2 linked regions of the Homo sapiens genome follow. The protein of the gene in region 1 interacts with the protein of each later gene in a biochemical or structural test. Each region holds a gene or a part of one and is shown in the gene's direction. Other genes may lie near its edges.

What was found.
Region 2: the proteins of KRT6A (region 1) and TCHP form a complex in vitro, tested with the Homo sapiens proteins (one study listed by BioGRID).

The regions. Positions count from the first base shown.
Region 1 is NC_000012.12:52,486,674-52,490,570, reverse strand, and holds the end of KRT6A (keratin, type II cytoskeletal 6A), read left to right. Parts: coding exon 1-2; intron 3-502; coding exon 503-628; intron 629-2,022; coding exon 2,023-2,243; intron 2,244-2,467; coding exon 2,468-2,502; intron 2,503-2,615; coding exon 2,616-2,851; 3' UTR 2,852-3,395; downstream 3,396-3,897. UniProt on the Homo sapiens protein: Epidermis-specific type I keratin involved in wound healing. Involved in the activation of follicular keratinocytes after wounding, while it does not play a major role in keratinocyte proliferation or migration.
Region 2 is NC_000012.12:109,902,959-109,906,773, forward strand, and holds part of TCHP (trichoplein keratin filament-binding protein), read left to right. Parts: intron 1-68; coding exon 69-256; intron 257-962; exon of another isoform or gene 963-978; coding exon 979-1,189; intron 1,190-1,778; coding exon 1,779-1,835; intron 1,836-1,870; exon of another isoform or gene 1,871-2,056; intron 2,057-3,613; coding exon 3,614-3,682; intron 3,683-3,815. UniProt on the Homo sapiens protein: Tumor suppressor which has the ability to inhibit cell growth and be pro-apoptotic during cell stress. Inhibits cell growth in bladder and prostate cancer cells by a down-regulation of HSPB1 by inhibiting its phosphorylation.

The DNA.
Region 1 (3,897 bases):
AGGTGAGCAGGGAGTGGGCAGCCGCTGAGGAATCCCTGTGCCATCCCTGAATACCAGAGGACTGCAGACTTTACTGGGGACATCCCCTGACAGGAAGCTGGGGTCCTCTCACAGGACATGCACTCTGCACTATTAGAGTAGACATTTGCAGAACTTATGCCCAAGTCAAGAAGGAAAAAGAACCCAATGCAGGAGGAAAGCTACCATAGACAAGGACATAGTCATCTCTGCATTTAGCTTCACCCTGATTGCTGGCTTTTAGAAATTGGTACAGAACATTTCTACTCCCTAAAGAAACTAGGCAGGCAGTGGTGCCATAATGAGGATGGTCTGTGACTCCAGTGTTTAGTATCCACCAACCACATAATATCAACTTTTCCTCAAGTTTCTTGAGGAGAAGCCTTTAGGTCCACTTCATGACATGCATGATACACAAGTGAAAGTCATCGCTCCCAGGTAAGAACCCGTAGACACTGTCTCTCTCTCCACCTCTGGGCTGCAGTACGAGGAGCTGCAGGTCACAGCAGGCAGACATGGGGACGACCTGCGCAACACCAAGCAGGAGATTGCTGAGATCAACCGCATGATCCAGAGGCTGAGATCTGAGATCGACCACGTCAAGAAGCAGGTATGGTGAGGGACAATGGAGGAGAGAAGCATTTCCTTGTCAGGTCGTCAGGCAGCCATCAACCATTATATTAGGGAAAATCCCCTGGAACTTATCAAAACCAGGGAGAGGAGGCTATCATTTCCTACCCTTAGTGGGTACCTGCTGCTTAGGAGACATAGATCCTACCTATGGCATGACACAAACACATGAGAGAACCAGTCACGATGCTCAGAGCTGCAAAAACATGGTTTAGAGCAGGAGTGTCCAGTATTTTGGCTTCCCTGGACCACAGTGGAACAAGAAGAACTATCTTGGGCCACACATAAAATACACTAATACAAACAATAGCTGATAAGCTAAAACAAAACAAAACAAAACATACAGCCTTGTCCAGTGGCTCATGCCTGTAATCCCAGCACTTTGGGAGGCTGAGGCTAGTGGATCATGAGGTCAGGAGTGAGAGACAAGCCTGACCAACATGGTGAAACGCCGCCTCTATTAAAAATACATAAAAATTAGCCGGGCATGGTGGAGCGTGCCTGTAGTCCCAGCTACTCAGGAGACTGAAGCAGGAGAATCGCTTGAGCCTGGGAGGTGGAGGTTGCAGTGAGTCGATACCGCGCCACTGCACTCCAGCCTGGGTGACAGAGCAAAACTCTGTCTCAAAAAGAAAAAGAAAAAGAAAAAACCCTCATAATGTATTCAGAAAGTTTAAGAATTTGTGTTGGGCTGCATTTAAAGCCATCCTGGGCTGCATGTGGCCTGTGGGCTGTAGGTTGGACAAGCTTGGTCTAGAGGAATTGGATTTATTTCCATAGGAAGACTGACTTGGAAACTGCAAAGGAACAAATTGAAAAAGAAAAGGGCAGATAAGAAAGCACAAGGAACATTGTTTCAAATCTGCTCAAGACTCAAGGTGAAAGAGAGAGTAGAGGAAGGGCAAAGGACAAAGAACAGTAGATGAGAGATTCTGAGGGGGAGGAAGGCAAGGTCTCAGCAGTCTCATGTGAAGACTCATCACCTCACTTCAGGATGGTCTTAATTTTGTGTATGTTAGTGTGGCATCTATATGAGGTAATCATAAGTGGTCTTGATTTGACTGTGGAGACAACACTCCAAACAAACCAGCAGGTACATTTCTTCCAGTGTATGTGTCCACTGCAGTGTCTCCCATTAGTAAATATCCACATTCTCCCACAGAGTGGTTCACAAAAAGGGTTATGAGTTTTTGTCAAATGAACCAGACTGGACAAAAACTGCAAAATAAAAAAAAAAACAATAGATAGGAAGAGTCAGAGCTCATTCACCATCAATTCTGGGCTCCTGGCCCCTTCACTAGGAAATAACCAGCCAGGTTTAGTCTCCTCTGGAAGACCGGATGACAAGTTTCTTCTATTCCTTTCCTCTTCCAGTGCGCCAACCTGCAGGCCGCCATTGCTGATGCTGAGCAGCGTGGGGAGATGGCCCTCAAGGATGCCAAGAACAAGCTGGAAGGGCTGGAGGATGCCCTGCAGAAGGCCAAGCAGGACCTGGCCCGGCTGCTGAAGGAGTACCAGGAGCTGATGAATGTCAAGCTGGCCCTGGACGTGGAGATCGCCACCTACCGCAAGCTGCTGGAGGGTGAGGAGTGCAGGTGGGTAACTGACACGAACTCCTTCAACAGCTGAGTCCATCTTCAAGGTTCCTGGCACTGAGCACAACTTTAAGGTGCACTGCCCATGGCCATAATTGCTCTTCCTGAGAGAAAACTAAAAGAGCAGTTTCCCATGGACTCTTCCACCCACCGAGGCTGCCCACGCTGGTCCAGGGAAGGAAGAGCTCTCTGAGGTCTCACCCTCCCTGTGTTCCTCTCCACAGGCTGAATGGCGAAGGCGTTGGACAAGTCAACATCTGTAAGTACCTTTGCTTGCCTTCCTCCCCTGCCCTCGCACTCTTCTGACTGGGCTCAGGCTGACAGGATGAGCTCACCATGGCTTCTTGTGTCCTTGTCCCCTCCCCATCACAGCTGTGGTGCAGTCCACCGTCTCCAGTGGCTATGGCGGTGCCAGTGGTGTCGGCAGTGGCTTAGGCCTGGGTGGAGGAAGCAGCTACTCCTATGGCAGTGGTCTTGGCGTTGGAGGTGGCTTCAGTTCCAGCAGTGGCAGAGCCATTGGGGGTGGCCTCAGCTCTGTTGGAGGCGGCAGTTCCACCATCAAGTACACCACCACCTCCTCCTCCAGCAGGAAGAGCTATAAGCACTAAAGTGCGTCTGCTAGCTCTCGGTCCCACAGTCCTCAGGCCCCTCTCTGGCTGCAGAGCCCTCTCCTCAGGTTGCCTTTCCTCTCCTGGCCTCCAGTCTCCCCTGCTGTCCCAGGTAGAGCTGGGTATGGATGCTTAGTGCCCTCACTTCTTCTCTCTCTCTCTATACCATCTGAGCACCCATTGCTCACCATCAGATCAACCTCTGATTTTACATCATGATGTAATCACCACTGGAGCTTCACTGTTACTAAATTATTAATTTCTTGCCTCCAGTGTTCTATCTCTGAGGCTGAGCATTATAAGAAAATGACCTCTGCTCCTTTTCATTGCAGAAAATTGCCAGGGGCTTATTTCAGAACAACTTCCACTTACTTTCCACTGGCTCTCAAACTCTCTAACTTATAAGTGTTGTGAACCCCCACCCAGGCAGTATCCATGAAAGCACAAGTGACTAGTCCTATGATGTACAAAGCCTGTATCTCTGTGATGATTTCTGTGCTCTTCGCTGTTTGCAATTGCTAAATAAAGCAGATTTATAATACAATATATTCTTTTACTTTGCCTTGCTTTGGGGCCAAAGTTTTGGGCTTAAACTTTTTTATCTGATAAGTGAATAGTTGTTTTTAAAAGATAATCTATTCTTTATACACATAACTCCCCTCCTTTAGAGAGGTTCATCAAACTTCAGCTTGGTATCATGACATTCAGAGTGTATTTCTAGATCAAATTCCATATGAACTTTTGGCAAATGGAGTGGGAGGCATCTGGTCCACCAGCATTGTCCACTCCGTTTTAACTGACCATACCAGGAACTAGCATCCCATTCCCTCTGCCTTGGTTTCCAGGACCACTTTTCCCCTTACGCCAGGGCTCAGCCTAATTGTCCAGTTAAGAAACATATTCTCGGCCAACTAGAGCAAGTTATTTGACAAAAGAATCAGATATGTGATTAATCATTATAATTGCCCTCATAAGCAAGAAACTTGCCTGACAACATGTATCAAGCACAATTAAAATGTGCATACACTGAACCGTAATTATACTTC
Region 2 (3,815 bases), about 57 Mb from region 1:
ATGAGGCCAAGCTGGTGAGGGTTCCTGGGATTTGCAGTGGCTCACTTTCCTCCCATTCCTGTTCTCAGATGGCGCTCCCGACGCTGCCGTCCTACTGGTGCAGCCAGCAGCGCCTGAATCAGCAGCTAGCACGACAGCGAGAGCAGGAGGCCCGGCTTCGGCAGCAGTGGGAGCAGAACAGCCGTTACTTCAGGATGTCTGACATCTGCAGCTCCAAACAGGCAGAATGGAGCTCTAAAACCTCCTACCAGCGGAGGTAATTGTGCGGTAACTGCCGATTGGATGGAAGTGGGGACCACTTGCTGGTCAGGGGATGAGGCCTTAAGGATTTAGGGAGCGTAGGATTTGCCAGGCAGTATGAATTACCTGCATGGTGATGTTTTTCCAGCTGGAAATGGAAAAAAAGATCATCAGTGCAGCCATACATTGGCATTGAAAAAGATAAAATGATGCAGAAGCATATGATAGAATTTGGAAGCCTGGTTGTAACCCCATATCCCCAGAGACAGCCACAGTTAACAGTCTGGCACATATCCTTCCATGCTGTTTCCCACTGGTATTTGTGCTTAAATATACACACACAAAGCTACTTTTATAGAAATACGTGTAAAAACATGGAGGCCAAAAGCATAGGCTTTGAAGTCAGACCTAGATGGAAATCCTGACCGTGTCTCTTGCTGAATGTATGAGCTTTGGTTTCCTCATCAATCAAGTGGGGCTACAGCAGACCTATGCTGTAGGATTTATGTGATGGATAATATATACATTATTTATACATTTATACATTTTCTTTTTGCAAAAAACAAGATTTTCTCTTACACATACTATTCTGTGACCTGCTGTCTCTGCTTTGGCTGGGGACACATTCCTGTGTCGTCATGACACATCTACCTCAGCCTCTTTTACCGACACAGCAGAGCAGAGCACGTTCCCTGTGGCTGTAGCATGATTGATTCAGGCAGGCCCCCTCTCACCCAGCATGCATGCCTATCAGCGGGAGAAGATGAAGGAGGAGAAGAGGAGGAGTCTGGAGGCCCGACGGGAAAAGCTCAGGCAGCTCATGCAGGAGGAGCAGGACCTGCTGGCCAGAGAACTGGAGGAGCTGAGGCTGAGCATGAACTTGCAGGAAAGAAGAATCCGGGAGCAGCACGGGAAGCTGAAATCAGCCAAAGAAGAGCAGAGGAAACTGGTAACTCCCCAGAGGGCTTCAGGAGGCTGTGGAGCAGGAGTGTTCCCAGCCTGAGTGTGTCGCACATGTAGGGTCATTCCTGGGTGCTCAGGTCTGATGAGATGCCAGTTAACTCCAGAGCCAGCAGGAAAAGAGCTTAGGTCCTTGTGCAGGGACTGGGTTTTGGATCAGTTAGCTGTAGTCTCTTTAGCCCCTTCAATCATTACATCTGAGTGCTTTTCCTTTCTTCCAGTTCTGTGGGTCCACAGAGATCTGGGACTAGTCTGTTTTACCTTCCAAAGTAGTTATGTGAAACAGTGAGCCCTAATCTGTGCTTTTCAGCCTGCTGTATTATTTTGAGACCCCCTAGATAGGACCTCTGTGTAGCATCAGATTTTGGCCCCCTTTTGTCATCATTGCAAGAGTCACTTGGTAGTGCCATGTGGTTCTCAGAGCTGTGCATGTGAAGCATGAGGGTTTGAACAGTGGTTGCAGTGACGGTGTGAAGGGAGGCACTCATAGCCTGAGCTGACTTCCACTGTGTGTCATCCAAAATGTGAATGGATTTGAAAAATGACATCAGGCTTTCCATTTTGTGTTTTCTTGATAGATTGCTGAACAACTTTTGTACGAACACTGGAAAAAGAACAACCCGAAACTTCGAGAGGTGAAAATCAGAGATCTCCATTGATTTATCTAAGTAGATGAAATCATGTTTCCAGACACTTTTTTTTTTGAACACGTATCTTGTACCGGGTTGAAACAGAGGAGGGAACCTTGAGCCACCTGAAAAGAGCGCCAGGCAGAAGATCTGGCACAGGCTGCGCTGAGCGGCTCATTCGGTTGTTGAACAAATGTTGATTGAACCTCCGCTGCCTGGTCTGCCAGGTGCGGGCATGGAGATTAGACATGGTTTCTGCTCATTAGCTTGTGTCCAGCATGGGAGCTCATTACAGGGCAGGATGCAGGGTGCTGGGCCAGCCTGAGAGGATGAGCATGGGCCAGCGCACTCAACTCTGGAGGGGTTGGGGAGGCTTCCCAGAGGAGTTCCTGGGGTGGAAGAGTTTGAAGGGATGTATGTGTGTAGAGGTGAGGAAAGGATGTTCTAGGTTGATGTGACTGTGAGAACCAGGCTTGAGACTCGAGAACAGAGCGAGCCCTGGGAGCTGAAAGTGTCTGGGTGAGGCTAGGATGTCAGATAGTGAGGGAGAACCCCAAGAAATGACGCTGGCGAGGCAGAGGGTGCCAGACATCGGAAGAGCTTGTGTGACCTTCCTCCAAAGGGGCTGGGGGCAGCATACAGGATCCCAGCTGCATTTCAGAGAGACTCCTCTGGTAGCAATGTGCCCGCCGACAGGGAGGGGTGCTGCGACAGCCCAGCCGGGGGTTGGTGAAGGCCTGAACTGGGCTGGCAGGGGAGGGGGTGGCCTCTTGGCTTGGTGGCCTTGTTCAGTGGAGATTTGGCTGCAGGGAGATCATCCCTCACTGTTATTCATTTATTTTCAACTTACAGTTTTTGTATACATTTGGTGCCTTCGTGTTATTCGTAGTTACATTTAGAAATCGCCAGGCACTAAATAATGGAACATCTGGTGCTTTTGTGCAGTTTGCACTAATCTGTGGGAGGACTCCTTAGCCCTGTTGGCTTCGGTGGAATCATCCAGAGCCGTTAAATCAGAAAAGTTTATTCAGAACATTCAAGTTAATTGCCTATGTTCACAGCTGTAAGTTGGGAAAGATTATTTTAAAACTTTTTTATAGAGACAGGGTCTCCCTGTGTTGCTCAGGCTGGTCTCAAACCTGGGCTCAAGTGATCCTCCCACCTCAGCCTCCCGAGTAGCTGAGACTACAGGTGGGCGCCACCATATCCAGCTAATTTTATAAACAGTTTCCCAAACAAAAGATTTGGATTGAATGTTGTGATCCATTTTCTAATCCAGGAGATTGTCTGCGCTCAAATCTCTTACTAACAATGCTAAACTTGTTGCACCTACTGGTGCATCACTTGATACAGGGAGTACGTAGTCCATCTGCTTTGCAGAGGAAACTTCGGGGAGCCAGGCACAGGGTTGAGTCTTCTCACTCAGCTGTCTCCCAGGGCCTGGCATGCAGTACATCAACCCAAGGTGGCCTTTGAAATTGTATTTCCATTTCAGCGTCCAGCCCAACCCTAGGGCTAGTGGGAGGGAAGTCTCTGTTACTTTGTACCAGCTCAAAAGATTGGTGTAGGAGTGCCTGGTCCTTTGGTCTTCTGATTGACATGCATTCACACTATACATGTTGAAGTCACCCCACGCTCTCTACTAGACGCCTGTGCCACTGAGTCCCCATGAAGCGAAGTCATGGCCACGTTCCCGCAGGTGGCACAGAGGGCAGGAGCACACTGTCCCCACAGTGCCCATCTGTCTGGTGAGGAAATTCACATCGTCCCCCTTCCATCCTCAGATGGAGCTGGACCTTCACCAGAAGCATGTCGTAAACTCTTGGGAAATGCAGAAAGAAGAAAAAAAACAGGTGTGGTATGTGGCTCTGGGAATAGCCGCGTATTCTGCTGTGCGAGACTGTTCACGTCTTTGCATTCGTTTACCGTTTTCAGCATCAGTGACTCCAGTTAAGGAGTGTAGTGTACTCTTTTCTTAGTTTACTT